Regions from separate parts of the Homo sapiens genome. Here region 2 is linked to region 1. The links come from fine-mapping of genetic effects on gene expression. Tissue or cell type: whole blood. Region 1 holds a variant in brackets; the other region holds the start of a gene. All regions are shown on one strand. Distances are between the middles of the regions.

Evidence for each region. PIP is the estimated chance that this variant, and not a neighbour inherited with it, causes the effect.
Region 2: DDIAS starts here. The variant in region 1 is fine-mapped to the expression of DDIAS in whole blood (INTERVAL, PIP above 0.99).

Annotation. Positions count from the first base shown.
Region 1 is chr11:83,151,944-83,160,051 of GRCh38, reverse strand. It overlaps PCF11 (PCF11 cleavage and polyadenylation factor subunit), which reads right to left and starts at 2,921. Exons shown (of 16, transcript NM_001346413.3): 1 at 2,421-2,921. The coding sequence starts at 2,612. RefSeq lists silencers at 1,756-1,815, 3,266-3,345 and enhancers at 2,616-2,865, 2,162-2,951, 3,016-3,065. The variant A/C (reference allele first, on the strand shown) is at 3,435.
Region 2 is chr11:82,897,023-82,905,130 of GRCh38, reverse strand. DDIAS (DNA damage induced apoptosis suppressor) reads right to left here and starts at 3,395. Exons shown (of 6, transcript NM_145018.4): 1 at 3,309-3,395. It overlaps PRCP (prolylcarboxypeptidase), which reads left to right and starts at 4,701. Exons shown (of 9, transcript NM_005040.4): 1 at 4,701-4,896. The coding sequence starts at 4,729. It overlaps LOC124902602, which reads left to right and starts at 3,076. Exons shown (of 2, transcript XM_047427953.1): 1 at 3,076-3,083; 2 at 3,450-4,217. The coding sequence starts at 3,076. The coding sequence ends at 4,107. RefSeq lists silencers at 3,766-3,855, 3,906-3,955 and enhancers at 4,166-4,215, 4,496-4,595, 4,746-4,805, 4,926-4,975.

The DNA of each region.
Region 1 (8,108 bases):
CTGCATGTGGGTCAACTATATTAAGTACGAACATGTCAAATGGTTTACTGCTGTGTCTTTACCTTACCATGTCATGTTTTACACCATTTTAGTCATTATTGTACTTATGAAGATAAACAGGCTCTCTTAAACACCAAAGTCTGTTAAGTAGGCTAATTTTTTATTGTACAAGTGAAGTCCTTTTATGTATTATTTTTCGCTACTGCTCTCTCTTGGGAGGAGTCAAATTAAGTGTGAATCCTTTAAGTTTAGTAACGCAGAGAAGCTAAAGAATAAGGACACAAACATTCACCTCCAAAACACAAAACCAGGCCAGTTTGCTACCAAATAACGGAAATCCCTCCCCTCACCCTCGATCCCAACCCAGATTAAGATAGATCCCCCAAAGTGACTTTTACATCTTTTCCTCAACCTGGCTTTACAAAAATAACCAGGAAACGTGTGCCCCCAAAATTTCAGCTGTCTTTTACCAGCAAAGAGCTCATCTATTTTCATCACTGTGTAGCGATATACAAACACAAGTTTTATGTGGTCACTATATTCAGCATTTAGTTTTCGGTTCTCGAAGGTCTTCCGGATCCATTAAAAACCAGCAAGGTTCTTTGAGTGACAACCTGAGCTGCTAAATATTAGGCGCTGTGGAATATTAAATCCCAAGATACGAGGTAATTAGATTTTAAAAATCAATGTTTTTGCCTTAAAAACACAAGTGCTTTAAGGCATTTAATGTCAAGTTAAGCCTTCAACAAGGCAAAAACTAAGTTTTCATGTCCAAGATGTTTGTGGTATCAATAAAAAGCATGTTGAGTATGACGAATGCTTCCTTTTTAAATCTCACACTTAAAAAAAAAAGCTGTTTTACATACACTTTCACAGGAAAAAGTGAACGAAAACTTGTATCTTAGCTGTCAGACTGAGCATGATAAACTTGTTGAGGTCCTTAAAAGGAAAAAGAAAAAAAACCCTTCCTTTTCGTCCTCTTTAAATTATGAAAGGACCACCTGAAACCGTGTATCTTGTGAAGAGGTTTACCCAAAAGAGTGGATGGAACCTAAAGAAGAATGAACCCAAGTCACTTAAAGACTTTTGTTTAAAACACACAACCACGTAGATAAAAATAAGTCTTGGAAACAGATTCTACACCTTACAAAGGTAAATAAAAAAGACAAATACATATTTTATATGTTTTATTCACAAATTTTATAATACCAGTCACACATTTCAAAACCATTTATTAGAGTCAGACCACTCAAGTTTTACACTAGACAGAAACCGTCTCTAAACAATATATTGGTGGTTGTTGTTAAAGTGGCCTTTAAAAAGGGGTTCACTCTGCTAAAAGGAGGCTCATCCTGATAATTGCAATCACTAACAACTAGAAAAAACTAAACCGTGAGTACAAGCTTGAAAAATAAAATGTAGCACTGGGACGCTATTAAAACTCATTGTAACTAAGTTGAACAGTAACTTTACTTAAATGACATATCGCTCCCATATGAATCCACAGAAGAGGAGGACTACAGGGAAATATAAGGTGGCAGAGGACCACTTCTGTCAAGGGGTAAAGAAAAACACTCCTTCGCTATCAGGGAAGGGAGAAAAAGAGAAAAGGAAGAGGAGGAGGGACTGAACTTTTCAGAGAAACTGCAAGTACTTGTTACCCTCTGGGCCAGTTCTCCACCTACAGGTTGGATAAGATCTCCTCCCCCCACCCAAACCCCACCCTCAACCCCACTTGCCCCTATTTTGGGACAAATTAGACCCTCCAATAGGAGAATAAAAGTTTTATCTAGCCGCCCCCACCCCAAAATGGGGCTGACGGGAGTGAGCAGCTGCCTGGCTGGCAGGGAATGGATTCTCCTCTCTTCCCTTTCGCATCATGTGCTTTTCAGGCGCCATGTTGGGCTCCTAACAGGCGGCTGCTCCACTCGGGGCCAAATCCCTATTCCCACCCACCAACAGCTCGCTCCCAGGTCCCCCTTCACCTCCTTCCAACCCACAGAACACAATTACCAAAAAGGGTGCTTGGGGAAAATGGGAGACCCACTCTCCCACTTCCCAGGGAATTAAAATGGCTTATGTTAACTCTTACTTCCCCAAACCACAAACTGCCTTTAAGTCTCCCCCACCCCAAAGGGCTCTATTCAAAGCGTGTGTGTGTCGGGATATACAATGCGGTGGCCTAAAAAGGGAGTTGGAAAGCGGAAGTGGGACTCCACCCTTTATCCTCCCCACTCCCTCCCCCCCAGAGGCCCATGCTCGAAGCCTGGGCCAAAGACCGAGCCTGAGTTGGAGGGGGGTGGGGGGGTTGGAGAGAAGGAACACTGTCCCCCTTGGGATGGAAGCGAGACCTGGGATGAGGCTGACACTAAAATCAGGGAGTATTAGAAGTAATAGGAGGCTGCGGGGTGTATAAAAACCTTGGCGGTTTGGGCCTCGATGAGAGAGACGATCTCCTTGGCGAAGGGCAGGTTCTCCTCGGCTAGAATGGTCAGCATATTGATGTGCGGCTTGCTATTGAAGGTCAGGTCTTCGAGCGATGACTGATAATCCCGACAGGCGTCCTCCCGGGCCCCCGCAGCACCGGCCTCGGCCGGCGTCTGCTCTGACATTGCGCCGCGGCCCCCCTCCGAGGTCCGCTGCAGCTGAAGCTGAAGCCGCTCTGGATACCCCGCCTCCCTTCCGACTCCTCTTCCTCTCCCCGGCTCTCTCGCGGCTCCGGCTTCACCACATGCTGACCGCGGAGGGGGGATGGGGGACGACACAGGGGGAACCTCGGGTATGAAACGCCGCCGTCTCGCGGGTGATCTCCGTCCACTTCCAGCCGCCACAGAAGCTTCTTTCTCCACAGACACAAAATGGCGGCGGCAGTGGCGGCTCCAGCTCCGAAAATGTCTGTGTTCCCAACCGCTGCGTCGTGCGAAATGAACTAGGGGAGGGGAAATGTGCGGTAAAAGGGCGGGGCCACTGATAAAACCAGGCGTGATTGGCTGTCCCGGCAACGTCACGAGCCCCGCCCCCGGCCCTTCCGCAGGACGCCCTGGCACCGCCTTCTTCTCCGGCCTCTACCCGGACTTTCGCAACATCTACTGCTCGGAGGCGCACTGGAAAAGACGGCCCTTCTCATTGGCCGATTCATAAGGGACTGTTCGGTCATTTGTTACCATAACAACCCATTCAGGGAAGCCAATAGGCCTGGGAAGGCAGTTCCCGCGGCCCAACCCAACCACTTTGAGAAGAAGACTCAGCCGTCCCCTCTTCGTCCCTCCCTCTAGCTTCCCAGCCACTGAGCGGGCCTGTCAATCATCTTTCCTCCCGCCTGCCCCGTAGCTGCTACCGACGGTGGGGGTTGGAGGGAGCGGGGGTTGGAGGGAGCGGAGGCTTTCTGCCGCCGCACCCCCTCTCCCTTAGCGTCTCAGGTGCTCTGGAGAGCC[A/C]GGGCGGGTCCAGCTGCCCCTCTGGGAACTGGGAAGTGGGAGGGAGGTGCCCAATTTACCCGGAACTTCGGAAAGCACTGCTGGAGAGTTTCTTCCAGCACGCCGCTTCCCACACCCACAAAAATACCTAGGCGAGCTTGCCTGACTTGAATCCCCAGGAAAATGCCTTTTATTTAGAGATTAAGTGTGAAAGGCTTTTTCCTTGGGGGTTTGGAGGAGCTCTTTAAGGAGCCCACTATGAGCTCTAGGAAGAGTTTTTCACAACAGCCACACCCAGCTGGACCGTAATATCTCCACTGTGAATCTGCATTTCAGAACCTCCTTAGCATACACTATTTGGGGCACGTAGGAAAACACACACGCGCATGCACTTTTGTTTTAAACTTGTGGGGCTGTCTTCCCAGGTTGGAAATGATGCTCGTAAAACACACAAAGCTTTCAAATAGTTCACCGTGGAGCTGCGACATAACACAAACCAAACGTAATTTTTTCATTGAGTAGCGATATTGACCTAAATATAAGCTTTTAAAATGTGTCAATTACGGGCTGGGCGCGGTGGCTCACGCCTGTAATCCCAGCACTTTGGGAGGCCGAGGCGGGCGGATCACGAGATCAAGAGATCGAGACCACCCTGGCCAACATGGTGAAACCCCGTCTCTACTAAAAATACAAAAATTAGCTGGGCGTGGTGGCGTGCGCCTATAGTAGTCCCAGCTACTCGGGAGGCAGAGGCAGGAGAACCGCTTGAACCCGGGAGGTGGAGGTTGCAGTGAGCCGAGATCACGCCACTGTACTCCAGGCTGGTGACAGCGAGAGTCTGTCTCAAAAAAAAAAAAGTGTCAATTACCTAAAATTGCTTTTCCATTGCCTTCCGTAGGCTACTAGGCATTTGAGAGATAATTTGTTGCTCCCCAGAAGAAATTGCTCTTAAAAAATAAACTTAGCCGGGCATGGTGGCGGCCGCCTGTAATTCCAGCTACTTGGGAGGCTAAGGCAGGATCACTTGAACTCGGGAGGCAGAGGTTGCAGTGAGCCGAGATCGCAACACCGCACTCCAGCCTGGGCGACAGAGTGAAACTCTCTCTCAAAAAACAAACAAACAAACAAACTACTCTTTACTTGTCCCATATAAAGTAACATTTTCATTTCTTCTTTTTGTTTCTTTGAGTTTTTTAGCATCTTTATTGTTGTCTAATTGAAACATAATGAACTGCATAAAGTGTGCTGCAAAGGTTAAGTTTTGACATGTATTTTCCATTTTTTTCTTAGCATGATATCACACATGAATGAAAAGTAAAACCTGGGGAGGAAAACTGGTCTTCCCTCATTTGAAGCTAAGAAGTATTGTTAAATAAGTATTTATAATCTCAATAATTTCACACTATTGTTAGTGGTGCTATTTAGATATACTAGAAAGTTTCAACTAATAACGTCCAAAGGTTTTATTTTCTGGAGGGAAATGACCAGGGTGAAATAGTCCTCTGTTCATTTTCTTTTCATTTTAAAGGTGAATTTCATTATAGAAATGTCTGCCTTTTACAGTTTTTAACTTTCTTTTAACAGCAAAGTGAACTTCTAAAAAAAAAAAAAAAAAGGCTCCAAAGCTCTGATTTGGCTTTTATTGTATCCCTCACAGACTATATACAGAGTAAACAATTAATATATCTTAGCACATAAATCAACAAACTTATGTCCCCACAAATGACATGGAAAACTCAAGAGACTAGCAATCTTATTCAAATCATGTGCTGTACTGTAACAAGCACATTTTTTCTTTAAATACTCAGGACAGGGCACAAACTAGATAACTGGAATTTTAAATACAAATAAGTGCACAAAACTTCTCTCATGGATTTTCACTACCAGTTCTTTCATCAGAATATGCAACGAATTTACTTTCCACCAACATTAAGCCCCGGTTATTTCCTATCTCTATGCTAGGTGCAGTGGTGAACAAGATAGCCCCTTGGCCATACCTTCATGAAATGTATACCTCAATCATAACCTCATGTAGTAATGTGAAAAAGTACTACATTTGTCCAGGAACCAGTGGTATCCCAGGACTATTTTCAATAATCAAATCCACTAATTATTGTGTTTCTGCAGAATATGAAGCATTTCCATTGTTTTTGAGGAAAATAGCTATACCCTTCCCTTGGTTCACAGAGTATTTACAAGAGGAGTTAATTCCTCCTTTAAAAAAATCTCTCAGCCTGGGAGTGGTAATAATTATCAAAAAATAAATTAATTAAATTTTTAATTTAATTTAAATTTTAGAAACCTCTGTTGTATCTAATCAATAACTCTTCTCATGTAAATTTTTTATATCATTAGAAAGACAGAAATGTGGACACTAAACACAAAAGTAGAAAGGACATAGGCCAGGTGCCATGGCTCATGCCTGTAATCCCAGCACTTTGGGAGGCCCAGGAGGGCAGATTGCTTGAGCTCAGGAGTTCAAGACCAGCCTGGCCAACATGGCAAAACCCCGTCTTCTACCATAAATACAAAAAATTAGCTGGGTGTGGTGGTGTATGCCTGTAATCCCAGCTACTCCTTTAAAATTTATAGACTGGGCGCTGTGGCTCACGCTTGTAATCCCAGCACTGTGGGAGGCTGAGGTGGGAGGATCACTTGGGCCCCAGAGGTTGCACTGAGCTGAGATCATGCTACTGCCCTCCAGCCTGGGCGACAGAGCCAGACTGCGTCTCAAAAAAAAAAAAAAGGAAATGAAAATTGAAAGCCAATCCCTTTAAAATCAAATAGTTATCGAGCACTGTCAGCAGGTAGAATTTCCCCCTTTTATATGTAAACCCAGTGTATGTAGATAATATGCAGCAATAATATTTACCTGTTATATATGCATATACATTTATTTATTCTTGCTAGAAATATGTAGTTTACTTATATAAACTTTTTTTATTTTTGGAGACAGGGTCTCACTCTGTCACCCAGGCTGGAGAGTGCAGTGGTGCGACCTCAGGTCACCGCAACCTCTGCCTCCAGAGCTCAAGGGATCCTCCTACCTCAGCCTCCTGAGTAGCTGGGACCACAGGCCTGCACCACTACACCCGGCTAGTTTTTTGTATTTCTGATAGAAGATGGGGTTTCGGCATGTTTTCCAGGCTGGTCTTGAACTCCTGGGCTGAAGCAATCCTCCCACTTTGGCCTCCCAAAGTGTTGGGATTACAGGAGTGAGCCACTGCTCCCTGCAACATTATTATTTACATGTTTTATAACCACAAAAGTAATGCATGCTTATTTTAAAGAATTCAAATACAAGTACACAAAGAAAAAATGAAAATTCCATCTCTCTGCCCTTGGCCATAAGGTAACCACTGCTCACAGTTTAATATCTATCTTTCCATGCCTTTTTCAATGAACGTACACATAAACACAATATGTAAAGCTTTTTTTTTGTTTCTTTAATTTCACCACCTTTCTGACTGGGAAGTGTAAATCTATGTTTTATTTTTACAAAAATATAATACACATGTGCATATATATCTATTTAATATTAATTACTTGCATTTATTTATTTATTTATTTATATTTTATTTATTTATTTTTTTTGAGATGGAGTCTTGCTCTGTCACCCAGGCTGGAGTGCAGTGGCACAATTTCGACTCACTGCAACCTCCGCCTTCTGGGTTCAAGCAATTCTCCTGCCTCAGCCTCCTGAGTAGCAGGGATTACAGGTGCCCACCATCATTCCCAGCTAATTTTTGTATTTTTAATAGGGAATGGGTTTCACCATGTTGGCCATGTTGGTCTCAAAGAACTCCTGACCTCAGGTGATCCATCTGCCTCAGCCTCCCAAAACACTGGGATTACAGGAATGAGCCACAGTGCCCGTCCTAACTTGCATTTTAAACTCAAGGTGTCACATTCATCCTTTCATGTGCATGGACTTCCTTTAAAGAACAGTCGAGATGCTGTATAATTCAAAGCATTTGTTTTTAAAGTCTGTGGCTTAGAAAGATAGCTACGGCAAGAATCAAGCCATTCTAATGTTGGCTCTAAACCAGGCTCTAAAATTGGCATGTAGTAGATATTCAATGAATATTTGTTGACTGATCCAGGCCCTGATTTCAATTTCACCTTGCTTGTCCATTGTTATCCTCCAACAGTATGAATAGACAAATGCAGCATTAGTTGAGAACTTAGGGTGGAGGTTGAACTTGGTATTATGGAGTTTAGAGATAGTGATTATCAGGAAAGGACCCTGGCTCACAATTCAAATGCGTGATAACCAAATTCCAAAAACCAGTTCATCATTTTAAGACTTAGAAAATATATTTTGCCAGCAATCTTTTCACTCATTTGCAGAAAAATATGATTTAGTGAACAATAGTTCTTAATTTTAAGTTTTGCTCCCATATATTTATCTTATCTATTGGCATCTCCTTCCATATATAGATGAAGAAAGCAAAAGAACAAGCAGCAAATGAATACTCACCTCCAAAACATGAATTCATAACTAATTGTACACATAATAATCTGCATTATTATATATTATTATCTGGGGTCTCTCTCTAGAAATAGAGAATAAAAAGTCTAAGCTAATAGAAAACTTCCAAAAATATTATTTCATAAATTTTATTTATAAAATGTGTAGTATCCTCTGGAATATATGTGTGTGTGTGTGTGTGTGTGTGTGTGTATTTGTATACA
Region 2 (8,108 bases), 250 kb after region 1:
AATATGTGGGGTCCATGTGGACACACTATAGTACATATCTAATTTACCATGGGATATTCTGGAATACTTGCTTTCTCTCCTTTTAGACAAGCCATATGGGGAGCTGAACTGTAATCCAAAGATGTTCTACTAATTTACCACGAAAAATTACCATCACAGGGAAGGGACATATCAGAAGCCCATATTTGTATATTTGGTATAACCTCATATTATACTAAAATTATAAACAGAAAGTTGCTTGAAGAAGAGCTGTTTGGTGAATCAACTATTTAATGGAATCAAGCTAATGCCTGATGCATTTTTCATTCTAGAGATGGTTTTGTCAGTGGTACCAGATATATAAACTCATTGATTACAACCTCTGCATCCCATTTTCATACTAGACAAGTATTTCTCAAACTTTATCATATATCAAAATCACCCAGAAGGCTTGATAAAACAGATTGCTGGGCTCCAACTCCAGAGTTTGATTCAGTAAGTCTGGGATAAGGGCCTGAGAATCTGCATTTTAAGTTCCCAGGTAATGGCCAAATTGCCCACACTTGAAAACCAGTAGCCTAGTCATTGAGACTATCTCATGGTGTGTAACACTTGTGATAAACATGGTTATAGTTAAATCCCCAAGGCCTGACAGCATCTTAGTCTCATTTGGATGATTTTGCAATTCTTTACTCTAATCCATTATTTGGTGATCTTTCAGCTTAACTACCTCATAATCAAGTTCTCAGAAGGCAACTTAATCATTTATGAAAAACCGTGCCCATACATGCACATACCAACACATCTTTTTTTCTTCTTCCGGCTAGACTAGAAGATCTAGAAAAACTGGGTTAGATTAGAAAATCTAAACTAATTCTTATTCTATGTTAGATCCTAGAGAAAAAGTTCAATTAAGTATTTAGTGTAAACTGGCATCTGGGGATGGGGCTGAAGAGAACATAAAAGTATAAGATGTGAATCCTATCTTAAAGTTCATAATCCAGTTTGAGTTCATTTGACTGCTTTACAGTTTGCAAAGTGCTTTTGCAACATTATCTGATCCACTCAGAGAAGTTAATCAGGTCTGGAACTCATGCCTTCTGATGAGTAGCTTACCAGTCTTTCTAGTCCATTACTCTCTTTGCTCAAGCTTCACACTTGAAAGAAACTATGTGTATTTGCTTCAAGACTGTGCCCAAAGGATGAAATTACTCCTTTAAAAAACTAGTTCCACTTCTAATGGCATAAAGAAAAGAAAGTATGACTAATTTTTCTCCCTTTCTTCGTTCCTCTCCAAACCCTTCTTGCCTTGCATGAAAATCTTTGTCACCTTGTAATTCTCCAATTTTCTGTTTCATATTTTACAGGCCAAGAGGCCTCAGCTATGGGAAGGGTGGCTGTTTTGAATTGTTTTCTTAACACTGTCTAATGGTCTCCTCCAATGGCACATACTTGTTTAATTTTTCTAAAGGCAGTCATAATAAGTCCCTAAAAAATAATTTAGTAACATTGACACGAAAATTCTAGAAAAGTAAGAGAGGCAGGCAGGAGAGTGAAAATTAAGTAAGCAAAAAAACAAAGAGACAAAATCTTCAGTGAAAGGAGAAATACTGATGAAAAATGCTTTAAAAACATGAACCAGGAAAATCTTAGTACGATACAGTTTTTCCATTGATATCATTTATGAGACATTTATTACAGGGATGGAGAAGGTCACATCTCAGTAAATGGTACTACTCACTAACCAGTAACTCAAACCAGATACCTAGGAGTCATTTGTCATTCCTCCCTTTCCTTCATATCCCACATCACACTCATCAGAAGGTACTTGAATCTACTTCCATACTTAGAAACCATCATTCACTTTTCCCTCATATATTCTGCCATCATCTTAATCCAAATCACCATTATCTCCTGTTTATGGTGCTGGATTAACCTCCTAACCATGATCCGGTCTCTGCCCATCTTTCCAGACTCATCTCATACAACTGTCCTTTCTAAATATATTCCAGCTATACTGGTCTTTCCTTAGATTCTTGAACATTAACATGTCAAGCTCTTTCCTGCCTCAGGACGTTTGCACAACCTGTTCACTCTGTTTAGAATGTTTTTCTTTCCCTCTTTTGCATGGTTGGATCACGCTCATCTTTTAGGCATCAGTATCAACTCCTTGGAAAGGTCTTCTTAGACCAGTCTAATTCACATAGTTTCCTTGTAAATTCTCCTTAATTCCATCCATAAAAGGTAAGTTCCATTAGAACAGGAATCTACCTTGTTCATCATTGGATCTCAGTACCTAGCAATTCTTGGCACAGACGAAAGAAGCATTTAACTATCTGCAGAATAAACAAATAATTACTTGGTGCTCTGTGATCCAGTCCTGTGGGGTCAGGAAAGGGTTTCTGATTTAAAAGGCTTTGCAAACTGACTAAGAATTAGCCAGGTCAGGGACAGGGTCAGAAGACGGTTTGGGGTGAGAAGGAGGATAGTGCACTTCAGGAACACAAAAGACATTCTATATGGCTGGAGCGGTGGAAAACCACTAGGGCTGAAGAGCCAGGCAAAAGTCAGATAGGAAAGAGTCTGTAAGTCATGTTAAAGAGTTTGGGCTTAAACCTGAGGGCAAATAGGAGCGACTGAAAGGTTTTCAATGGGGAGTGCCTCGGTCAAATATGAACTTTATCAGCCCAGCAATGTGGAGACTGGACTGGAAGGTAGCAAGATTGAAAGCAGGAGAACCAGCTGGGGCGGCGGGGGAGGGGGGGGTTACTGTCACAGCTATGTAGCAGTCATAGGGTCGAACCAAAATAATGTCAGTAAAAAACGGAGAGAAGTGAACAGATCTGAGATATTCAAGAGGCTGGTAGGGACTGGCTGGATGTGAAAAGGAAGAAAACTTTCAAGCTCTGGTTTAAGCACATGGCTCAGTTAAAATATGTTCCTTCTAAGCCATCATAGCATTTTGGAAGATCCCCTTTCAGCACGTACTACTCTGCACAGTGGCCCACTGAATACGTATTTGCACATTACAGAAGCAAGAGTCGCGCCTTTTCCTCTCTATTTCCGATTCTAAAAGCTCACTCCGAGTCTAGCTCGATGGCACTGTAAGTGTTCAATAAACGTTCGTTAGGTGATTGCAAAAGCACTGAGTCTAAAATAAAATAACTGACGTTTATATTCTGTTACCCTCATGGCTGCCCGTTTACAGAGAACCACTTGTGAAAAAACAAGCGCCGGGCTCTGGGTGGGTCTCATTCATAATGAAGTTAAGAGCCTCCTTAGGAGTCTCCGGCTCTTCGGCTTCCCGAGAACCCCTTTACCCAGCTCACCTGGGGGAGAAGACCAGGAACGGGCCCAGGCGACGCACAGTGACTCGGACCGGCCGAACTCAGTAGCACGCCGGCAGCCTTCCAATCGAATCTCCCGCGTCCTTTTCCGCCGGAAGTAACGCTTTGGCTCTGATTACTCAGAGCCAATCAGAAGAAGGCGCCGCAGAGGGTGGAGCTTAGCGAGGAAATCCTACAAGCATCTGGAAACGACCATTTTCGTCAAACTGCGGGTAGAGTCTTTCTCCCCGACAGGTGGATCAGTAGTACAGTCCGTAAAATTGGTTTTGGAGCTTCGCTGAGCCTCCTGGGCGTAGGGTTCCCGGGAAAGTGTGGAGTGAGCCGCAGCGCCCTGGGGTCTGGCGGGGTGACTGAAAGAGGGAATGGAAGCTGGATGAAGAGGGTTGAGGGAGCTTTGGAAGCCAGACCCGGCGCTGTCCTAGGGGCTAGCACTACCCACGGGCGGAGGGAGGAAGGGGGCGGTGGCAGGAGGCAGGAGGGGGGTGGAGCGCGGAGTGGGTTTTCGGGTGCCGGAGAAGAAAGGGGGCGTTATTTGAAAGAAGGGACCGGGACCTGGCGGGATTTAGGGGCGATGTGGACCCGGGGCGACCTGTGTAATGGATGGGTTGTGCGAGCAACACAGTTTTGGGGTGACCCAAGAACGGAGTATCATAGGGAGTGGTTAGGCTCCAGATGGAGGTGGGTGCAAGGAGCACAGTCTTTGGACCTGGACCCAGCGGTCTGCGACGACGTGCTCCGCTCACTGCTGAGTGATCTAGTGCAAGTTCCCGCACCTCTCTGAGCCTCAGTTTCCACATCTGTAGATGGGAATAACAATCATATACGACGCACAAGATTGCTGTGACGATTTAGTTAGAGGAGATGATGCGTGTGCCTCCCTGCCTCGTGATACACTGGCCTGTAGTGAACCTTCAATAAATTGTCATGGTAGCTGTTATTGCCGTTACGTAGGATTTGCGGAAGGCAGGAGGTGTCGCAATGGAATTGCGGTGGCCAGGGCAGGGTTTGGTGGTGATGATAATGGTAGGGATATTGGGTGACCTGAAGGACAGGTGGGCTTCGGGGGCGCTATAGATAAAGCATGGGCTACAGCGATGAGTTAGGAAGAGGCCCTAGCATGATAAGGGCAGACTTGGGGTGTGACCGCAATGAAGGTGAGTGCTAAGGAGCAGATGGCACGAGAGGAAAGTGGAGTGGAGGCGGTGTCCTCGGGGATGGGGGCGGAGTGGCTGTGGTGACCTGGCTTGGGCGGCGTCTCTGAGGAGCTGGCTGGCTTTGGGTTTCCCCTGGGAGGAGCTGTTTTGCGGCGGGCGGAGCTGCAGGCTGGGCAGGGCTTAGCCTGTGCGCTTCTGCTGGCCTCCTTTTCGCCCTCCCACCCGCACTGCAGTCTCCAGCCTGAGCCATGGGCCGCCGAGCCCTCCTGCTCCTGCTTCTGTCTTTTCTGGCGCCCTGGGCCACCATAGCCCTCCGGCCGGCCTTAAGGGCCCTCGGCAGCCTACACTTGCCAACCAACCCCACATCCCTCCCGGCTGTAGCCAAGAACTATTCGGTTCTCTACTTCCAACAGAAGGTAAGGGGGAGCGGGGGCTTCGCCGTCCCAGGCCCAACCGCCGGGAACCCTGACCCTCAGAGCCCGGGCAACGGAGCCTACCTCGAAATTCACACCCCTTGATGCCTAGGATCTGTTCGGTTTTTGGCTAACATCTTCCAGAAGGTGGTCCCAAATCCCAGTTCTGTTTAAATTTTCTCCTCCCATTACCAATAATTTGGTAGTAGTTTTGGCTGCATACTCTTGATTCAGGCTTTTCTGTAATTGGACACGACAGTCACTTCAACTCCCTCTGCTCCCAGAGGGTGCCCCAATCCGAACTCCCTTGACCTTCCCTCAAATTCAAATTATTAAATGCCAGCTCTGGTACCTAGTCTGCGGTGATAGTCATCCTTTGCCCCAAGGCAGCCCTAAATACAAATTTTAATATCTTTACCTATTAGAAAATATTGGATAGTTATCCATCCTAAAAGCCAGCCTCTCAGAAGGGGTCAGCTCAGAGCTGATTTTGTAGCCCTATTATTAAGAATTGTTGACAGTCCCTATTCCCCATAAGACTGAATGTATGTAGCCTATGCTTGTAAAAGGAGTTGTAGGAGTTTGTGGTGGGGGTGGGGATTAGCCTTTCTATGGTCTGTAACGTGAAATTAGAGGTTTTTGGGCTTGATGCCTTTGTGCTTGGCTGCAGCATGAGGCATTCCCCCACAGGTCTTGATGGAAAAGTACATCCTCTGTGAAATGACAAGTAATCCTTACAGTTCAGCATTTCTGAAAGCCTGTGTAAAAATAGGAAAAGATTTGGAAAAGGTTGGGATTAGAAAGAGTGCAAGGGTCTGAAGCTTGGCTTTAGGAGTCAGATAGAACCGGATTCCACCCTGCTAGCTCTGTGACCTTGGGCAGGTTACAGTACTTCTGTGAGCCTAGTTCCTTGATCTCTTGGGGTTTGTGGTGATGGTTGAATGAGAGCAGATAACGTACTCTTAGCAGAGTATCTGGCTTCAAGTAGGCACTCATATAATATGTGGTTATAGACCTATGTGAAATTTTGTTGTTGTTAATTGTGCAGAGACAAGGCTCACTATGTTGCCCAGGCTAGTCTTGAACTTGTGGGCTCAATAATCCTTCTGCATCAGCCTCCCAAAGTGTTGGGATTACAGGTGTGAGCCACTGAGCCCAGCCCTTATGTGAATTTGGAATGGGAATTTGTGGTAGAGGGATGTCATAGACTTCCAGAATAACTTAGAAATAATTTAAAAATTTTTTTATTTTTAAAAATAGAGATGGGATTTTGTCATCTTGCCTAGGCTGGTCTTGAACTCCTGGGCTCAAGCGATGCCCCTGTCTTGGCCTCCCAAAGGGCTGGGATTGCAGGCGTGTGCCACTGTGTCCCCAGCCAAGAAACAATTTTTAACCCAGACATTTGAGTTCAAGTTTATGAGGAAGAGAAAACATTTTAATTTTAGCAGGGGTACTAGGAAATAATCTTTTTTCTCAGGCAACTCCCTTAAATTAATTCTCTAGGGCATAATTCCCTCATTTGTAAATTAGGAGGGTTGGGACAAGGACCAATGTGTTTTACACTTTACTGAGGAAAATTAAGGGCTCTTTGGGGAGCTGTTTCAGAGGGAAAGTGGATGAAGGCTGAAGTGGAGGCCAAATTAGGTGCTCTAGTACCCTCTCTTGGATCTCTTTCAGCTTTTACCTGTTTTATATGCTGGGATTTTATATACAACTATTTGCAGAACTCAACTGCTAAAGTAAAACGGTGGGGAGGACTATTGGATTGGGAGATCTCTAAAATCCCATTGGGATTGATGAAAAAGAGAACTATCAGCAGAAAAGAGGAAGGGAACAAATGAGTTGTTAGTACCTTAGTTCCTAATTTATGTTCCTTTATTGTAGATTCTTTTCTTGGCCACTACACTCCTTAGAAATATAATTCAACACTGTTTCTTTTTCCATTTTTGATGATATGCAAAGTCCAGCTTTACTCAGCCACATTTTGTCCACTGGCTTATATTTAATTTATATTTTAGGATACAGATTCCACGTATGTATTTATTACCATAATAATAATTTTTCTTCTGTCTATTCCAATTGAGTTTTATTTCATTTTCTGAGGAAAACTTTTACATATGTATTTATTGCATAATTATAATTATACTAGTTGCCAATTTCTGAACCATTGATTTTTAGTTAGGACTATGTGTGAACTCAACTTTAAGTTTTTAAGTTAGAGCACATGAAATACTTTGATGCCTTCTAGTAATAAACTTATTATTAAAACTGTAAGGCTTAGTTTTTTATTCAAGGTTTAATTTTTATTAAACTTTATAATGATTTACCTGTGGTTATATCTGCCCCAGTGACCAAGCTGGACCCAGCTGTCCTTCTATGTATATAAAGGATGTGGTTTTATGGAGTGGTCTCTAAGAAGGCTTAGCCCATGGTCTTATCCCTCCCCTGCTTAGAAATTCTTCATAACTCTGATTGCAGGATAAAGGCCAAACACCTTGGCATGGGAATCCATTGTTCCTTACTATGTAACCCTAGCTGGTCGTTCCAACTTTATATTCTGCCATAATTCCCCATCCCAGCTCCCACTTTTAGCAACCTAACAGACTCAAGTGACTTTTACTGTGTCAGAAATTCTGTCTGGAATACCATCCCTCTTCCCCACTATTTAAACTCATAATTCTATTCCAGCAGAAATGTCTCACCTCTTCTGCGAATCTTTGACTTCTTTAAGGAAATTTAGTTGGTCTTTTTTCATCCTGCACATTTACTATATTGTATGTGTCCCTCCAGCTCGTTAGTACTCTACAATACCTAGAAGAGCCTATAAAAAAGTATAAAGCACAAAATAAATAGTTGTTGAAAGAGTGAATGCATGATTATTCAAAAAGAACCTAAACAAAGCAAAGGCTACCATCATTTAATTGTCACAAATCATTTTTTATTTTTCTTTTTATCTTTTACTTTAATTCTTTACTAATTATTTTTTCCTCCTTTTTCAAGGTCTTCAAATATTGAGTTAGGTAGGACTATTTGATTTCTTTTACCTGAAATAACTGAATTAGGAGACCAGAGAGAGGATAGTACATCACTTGGGCACATCGAGGCTCTGGGTACATGTGTAGTATGTGTGGTATCAGTGTCATAAAGGGCTCTCTGGAATATGTGGCTTGTGGTTACAATGTTGCATGCTTATTACCTTGTACCTCCCACCTGAG